2 linked regions of the Homo sapiens genome follow. The protein of the gene in region 2 purifies or fractionates together with the protein of the main gene of each other region. This does not show direct contact. Each region holds a gene or a part of one and is shown on either strand. Other genes may lie near its edges.

Evidence for each region.
Region 1: the proteins of FRYL (region 2) and RNF138 purify together in Homo sapiens (affinity purification with mass spectrometry; 2 studies listed by BioGRID and IntAct, with this or other methods). This does not show direct contact.

What each region holds. Positions count from the first base shown.
Region 1 is NC_000018.10:32,122,778-32,126,434, forward strand, and holds part of RNF138 (E3 ubiquitin-protein ligase RNF138), read left to right. Parts: intron 1-740; coding exon 741-797; intron 798-1,956; coding exon 1,957-2,068; intron 2,069-3,657. UniProt on the Homo sapiens protein: E3 ubiquitin-protein ligase involved in DNA damage response by promoting DNA resection and homologous recombination.
Region 2 is NC_000004.12:48,770,276-48,773,932, forward strand, and holds part of FRYL (protein furry homolog-like), read right to left. Parts: intron 1-3,657. UniProt on the Homo sapiens protein: Plays a key role in maintaining the integrity of polarized cell extensions during morphogenesis, regulates the actin cytoskeleton and plays a key role in patterning sensory neuron dendritic fields by promoting avoidance between homologous dendrites as well as by limiting dendritic branching.

The sequences.
Region 1 (3,657 bases), on a different chromosome or scaffold from region 2:
TGCACCACTGCACTCCAGCCTGGGCGACAGATTGAGACTCCAGCTCAAAAACTAACTAACTAACTAAATAAATAAAATTGACCACATTGATCAAATTCTGTAGCACACAGGTGACGGTCCCTGTATGGAATACTTACTCTTCCCTCAGGATTCCTCTGATATTCCATGTGACACATGACTCTCTGGCATATGGTAAAAGTGGAGATGTTAAGTTGTTCTGTATATTAAATGTTAGTGAAGCCTGGTTTCTTTCCTTTCTGGAAATAAAATACAAACATAATGAACATTTACATATTTTCTTAAATTACTGCACTTTGGAGGGCATAACCTTATACCATGTCCTAGTTTGAAGTAAAAAAGTTCACAAATTCTTGAGTCTACCGTAGCATTTAAAACCTTACTAGTCTAGGTAAAGGTAGAGGAATGGGATTTAAGGTAATTCTGCAAAATTCTCTATACTTCTGTAACTGTGCATAAGTTAATTTTAAAGAACATAAATAAGAATCTAGTAAGCAGTCAATTTATTTAAAAGTAATTAATATTGTAATTATTTCATAGTTCAGAACCATTTGAAGTTCAAATTTTGTTTTTTCAAGGACCCAATAGGAAAAAGGTGTATTGAAGTTCAGACTTTTAAAACAAATTCAGACTAGTCTTCTTCATTAATGGTTCAAGATAATGAACCTTTAGTGTGTTTTCATTACTTTGAGGTATTAACTTTTTCCCCTGTGCTTCTTAAGCAATAGGAGTGAAACATCCACATCTGATAACACAGAAACTTACCAAGAGAATACAAGGTAAGCTTTTGAAAAATCCTGCCACTTTAGCAAGTAATATTATATTTATCACTTATCAAATAGCTTTTTAAATTAAACTTTTTTTTTTTTTTTTTGAGACGGAGTCTCACTTTGTTTTCCCAGGCTGGAGTGCAGTGGTGCGATCTTGGCTCACTGCAACCTGCGCCTCTCAGGTTCAAGTGATTCTCCTGCCTCAGCCTCCCAAGTATCTGGTATTACAGGTGCCTGCCACCACGCCCGGCTAATTTTTGTATTTTTAGTAGAAACAGGGTTTCACCATGTTGGCCAGGCTGGTCTCGAACTCCTGACCTCAGATAATCCACCTGCCTTGGCCTCCCAAAGTGCTGGGATTACAGGCATGAGCCACTGCGCCTGGCCATAAATTAAACTTAAAAAAAAAAAAAAAATCAGTTACATCATTAGGCATAGTGTTTGAAGTTAGCAGTTTAGAAATAGAAAATGCAGTTACTGCTTTTAAGAATCACATTAGGTTAGAAGAGTTTAGTTATTCTCTTTCACTGTGGTCAGGTTTCTTCCACACACGATTCAGGTAAAGTTGTCTGTGTTGAACTGTCCCTTCCTGAAATTCAGAAGTATTAAAACTCAGTGATGCTTGATCCTCAGAATGTTTTCGAGTATTTCATTCTCATGATCAGTGCTTTTGTTTTTTCTTTTCCTTTGAATTTTGGATGTTGGATTCCTAGGGCCTGGTATTTATTAGAGATACGATATTGATGGAAGTCTTTTAGAAGTTTTAAGTTCCTAGATAAAAGGTTTGCAAAATGTGGAATACTACAGAATATTAAAAATTTTCAAGGGACATACAGTGACAGCTATTGGCATCAGAAAACAACTACAATTAAGTTTGGACCTAACTACATAATATATGGAGTCAGCTAGGTTTTTGTTTTTGTTTTTGTTTTGGCCTAGAGGTGCCATGAAAAAATTTATTGAGGACACTAAGAGTACTGTAAACTGAGATTGGGAACCTCTGTAATGCATCATTTCCTGAATACATATGTTCAAAATGAGAGAATCTTTGAATAGTCTAATAATTATAACTTTTTTAAAAAATGTATAGTGATTCCTCAAAAAATAGGAGAGCGTTATTTTTGTGTTATTCTGAATTAAGTATGTTTCACTTAAAATTGTTTTATAGTTCTTCTGGTCATCCTACTTTTAAGTGTCCCCTGTGTCAAGAATCAAATTTTACCAGACAGCGTTTACTGGATCACTGTAACAGTAATCACCTATTTCAGATAGTTCCTGTGGTAAGTACATACGTTTGAGACAGTCTTCTGCTTAGAATAAAACATGCTGTTCTATTTATTTCACTTCATGTATGCAAGAGAAAGTAGTTGATTTATATTTGGTTGGGGCATTATCAGTAAGGTAGATTTTTGTCAACAAAGGATTGATGACTGTGAAGCAAAATGAGATATTTAAAATTGCAGTAACTCTCATTATAAAAAGGGAGATGCATAGTGTGAGGTAATATAGCACAGTCTGGAGAAGAGTGAAGTAATGAAAGATGAACCGGGAACTCATTCCTGCGCAGTAGCACAACCTGTCTATTGAGGCCTCAGTTACTTGCTCTGTAGATGGCAGACAAGTAGATCTAGTCAGGTAGATTGCTGTAGGTGAAAATACCTGTAAGTAAGAATAAAGTCAGTAGGTATTTTTATTGTTTTCTTGCAGCATATAGTATGTGAATGCATAAAGCAAGGAAGGAAAAGACTTAGACTTTGTATTTGATGCCTACATATTTTTTGACATTTTGAGGGTATGTAAGAAAATGGTGAGAGCTTTTTGATAATGAGGGAGATAGAGCAGAATTCAGGATTCCAACATATAATGATCCTAGAAGTGTTTCATAGGTAAGTTATTTCAGCTGTGAATGGAACAGGAGAAACTGAGCTGGGAGAGAGATTTCCCTTTCAGCTGAACATTTTGATATATAAATAATTGTCTTCAGAAAGGAGAATAGGAAGGAAAATGTTATCAATAAGAACTGTAGATATTTCTAAGCTGTTTTAGTGAGTATGCTAGGAAAAGTTGTGAAAGAATGTGCTTCAGGACCGGGCACGGTGGCTCATGCCTGTAATTTAGCACTTTGGGAGGCCGAGAGGGGAGGATTGCTTGAGCCCAGGAGTTCGAGACTAGCCTGGGCAACATAGTGAGACCCTGTCTATTTAAAAATAAAGAAAATAAAAAGAATATGCTTCAATAACCATTGAGGATGACCTTAAGCTCTCACATACCACCTAAGAAGGTGTACTACCTACTTTGCTTATTAGAATGGGTTCAGTTATGCTTAAATAGACAAATACAGTGCCAAAGATGTTCCAGGAAATCTCGCTCATATTTAAGATTTTACTTAGTTTTATATTGGATTACCAAATTTTTATTCATTTCTGCATAATATTCGATATATCATAAACTTTGGCTAGAGTTTAATTACTGAAGGTTTTTTGTGTGTTATTTCAGTTATTTATCCATTCAGTTTTTAAGATGTACTTCATTTAAACGTAAGGATATGGCTGGGTGTGGTGGCACATGCCTTTAATCCCAGCACTTTGGGAGGCCAAGGCGGGAGGATTGCTTGAGCTCAGGAATTTGAGACCCAGCCTGGACAACAGTGAGACTGTGTCTCTAGTTTTAAGAAAAGAAAAGAAAAACTAAGGATACAATTTAAAGTAAATTTTCCAGTTTACTTCATTTTTATTTTACTTACAAATGAAATAAAACTAATAATAATTATATGGTTATTGTATGGATCAAATGAGATAATATATTGGATATGTTGCAGGCAGCCAGTTAGTGATAACTGTCATTACAGTTGGTATTATTAAAAGCTAGA
Region 2 (3,657 bases):
AAAAAATGTTTAAGTGATGATATTCAATCACATTTTTCTTATTTTACAAATTACTAATATTTTAAGTAGGATCAAAAACATGGAACTAATATATTTTAAATTATTTGAAAATGTTTTTCATCCTTATCACATTTTTTTGTTAATGTCTTTTTTATTTTTTATTTATTTTTTATTTTTTTGAGACAGAGTTTCGCTCTTGTTGCCCAGTTTGGAGTGCAATGGTGCAATCTCGGCTCACCGCAACCTCCGCCTCCCGGATTCAAGTGATTCTCCTGCCTCAGCCTCCTGTGTAGCTGGGATTACAGGCATGCACTACCACGCCTGGCTAATTTTGTATTTTTAGTAGAGATGGGGTTTCTCCATGTTGGTTGAGCTGGTCTCGAACTCGCAACCTCAGGTGATCTGCCCGCCTCAGCCTCCCAAAGTGCTGGAATTACAGGTGTGAGCCACCACGCCCGGGTTAATGTCTTATTATGAACATAATTTATAGTATATAGTTTACAATAAATAAGCATACACATATTGGGAATGAAGACTCAATTTTTTATACTGCTGAAATAAAATTTTTGCAGACTTCTGTTACAGAGGCTACAAAATTCCAAGCTACTATCCCTCCCTTAAAATTTTTACCTTGGGAAGAACATTAGAACAGGAAAAATGTTAGAACAGGAAAAATACTAAACTAAGAATCAAAGCACAGTTCTTTTTTTGTTTGTTTTTTGTTATTTCCTTTCAAATCTACATCTGCAGAAAAAGAACAATTCTAAACAAGTCACAGTCTCATTCTCATCTATAAAATGCAGAAATTCTACTGTATCATTCCTAAGGACATTCTAGCTCCAAAAACATTAACTCTAAGGCAGGAAAAGGTGAAACAATGAAAAAATGCATGACAAACTGTAACTAGTATTTACTGAAAGTATATTAAGGGTTCAGTAGTATCAGGAATATTACATACAAGACATGGTCTAAATTGTATCAACACAAATACAGAAAAATGCATCTATAAAGATAATTTTACCTCAAAGAAAACAGATTAAGATCCAGTTTAAACAAAAATATTTAGGTAACAGACACATCTGGCTATTTTACAAGCAATCTCATAGTGCTTTAAGACTTTTAATATCTGCTCTTTGACTTACATTGTAACAATATACCAGTAGATCTAAGTATCCTAGTATACATGCTTAGGGTTTTGATGGTTCTTACAAGAAGTAGACTAGCAAGTCATTCTAACAGGAAAAACAGTTCTTCTCCATCCACTTGAGTTAGACTTAACAAGACAATTTTTAGAGGTTTATTATTCAGAGGAAGTTAAACATCCACAGGGTAGCATCTACCATCCTGTTATACCATCCTCGGCTATCCAGAAGCATCACTTAGCCAAAACAGAGTCAAAAACCAGAAAAAAAGCACGAGTCCTCTAAGCAGTAAAAAACAACAAGTCCCTAGCACTAAAGCTCCATGCACAGAAAGTCTTCTGGTTCCTCACCCAGAAGAACATGCTGTCATTTTTATCCACCATTCAGCAAGTACTGTATGGGGTTCTGTTCCCACAGCACACTGAAAACATCAAATTATAAAGAGGAGACTACTATGGGCAGGCATAATGAGAGCAAACAAAGAGATAACAGTTAACAATAAAGTAATAAGCAAATCAACCCCCAAAAGCAGACATGATTTAGAAAGGAATGGTTTCACCAACAAACAAAATATGATTCTCTGTACATTGCTGGCTGAGGACACTAATTGGCTAGAGTTCCTTTTGCAAATAAATTGTTGTGAGTTCACTGACATCCCAGACATACGAATGTCACTAAATCTATTGACTACTTAATAAGTAAGGTATAAGTATTAATAATGTATATGTACCATCTTTTAAGGTGGAAGGATGCAGATTATATTTTGAGAATTTTTTGTAATTGTTTCCATTAACTATACTTTACACTTCTACAGGCTAGCAAGTCTTTGTCTTTTTAAGATTATTTTGAACCTCTATTTTTGATAGTAATTCACTTGATAGTCACATGAGACCTGCCGGTAAAGGCCACAGTGAGCCGTGATTGCACCACTGCACTCCAGCCTGGGCAACAGAGCAAGACTCTGTGTCAAAAAAATAAATAAATACCTTTCTAAACTTGGATCTACATACATCAAGGGATGATGTACTTGAATCTACTCATACTATTTATACACATTGAGAGGGATCAAGTTACACAGGAATGTACATTTATTAAGATGCACATTCATCAAACTAATATTTTTAACCAGTATTATAGATGGCATAACCCATCTTAAGTTTTAAAATGGAAAAATAAAATTACAAATTATCTTTCCAGCATTCTTTACTATTGAACTAAATTAAATCACATCTGAAGCTTACCCTGAAATGAAGAGACCTACCAAAAAAAAAAAAAAAAAAAAAAAAAGCAGAACAAAACAAGAATTCTGAGAAGTGGAAATACTACACTGAAATCCATTCAGGCAACAAAGAACACGTGAGTGGTTTATATCCTAAAAAGCAAGGCTGCACTGCAGTAAGTAAACAAACTAATGTTCCTTTTTCATCAACTTTCAGATGCTTTTAACAACAACAACACTTTTAACCTTTCTGAAGTATGGACGCTGAAATAGAGGTGTATCTTACAACTACTGTCATCCAACAGTGGGATGTCGTTGGTGAAAACGTTCAGTTGATTCCTCCTGGAAAGATCAAGGAAGCACCAGCATCAAAGTGTCTTACATTTGATCAAAAATAGTCACTCAAAATAGTCTTAAAAAGACAAAGAAATGATCAGAAGCCTGTAAAAGTATAATCAACAGAGACAACTACAAAAAATTCTCAAAATGTAAACTGCATCCTCCTACCTTAAAATATGGTACATATAAATTACTTATCACACTACTTAGCAAGTAGTCAACAGATTATCTATCATTATTATTATAAGACGCAAGATAAAGACTAGTAGAGCTGATGAAAATATCTGTGATCATAGTGATCAGCCAATCAATAAGCACTTATTAAGGGTCTACCAAGTCACTAGCAATATGCAAGAGTAATGCAAATCCATCATGATCAATCTACGAAGCACTATTTTTTTAACCAGTAAGGGGCAAATGTCACATCACATTCATCAACGATTAGAACTAAGTACTTTTAACTTCCTTTAAAGTATTGCCCTTTATTTGAGTCCAGTCTGCAGAACTCGAAACCTAAATTGTTTACTTGAAAAGAGTCATCAAATGATTATGTTAGTATAAGGAAGTGTTACCAGAATGAGTCTAATGGTTTTCATAGGGGAAAAAAAAAATTTCCTATTATTCTCCAGGCTTAGGTAGAATAATGATGGGTTAAATTTTCTCTTAAAACCTTTCTACGGTGGCTCACACCTGTAATCCCAGCACTTTGGGAGGCCAAGGCAGGCAGATAGCTTCAGCCTAGGAGTTCAAGATCAGCCTAGGCAACATGGCAAGATCCTCTTTCTACAAAAAATAGCTGGGTGTGGTGGCACATGCCTGTGGTTCCAGCTACTCACGGGGCTGAGGTGAGAGGATCACTTGAGCCCAGCTGGTGGAGGCTACAGTGGAAACTGTAGCTGTGACTGCACCACTGCACTCCAGCCTGGGAAACAGAGTGAGACTCTGTATCAAATAAAT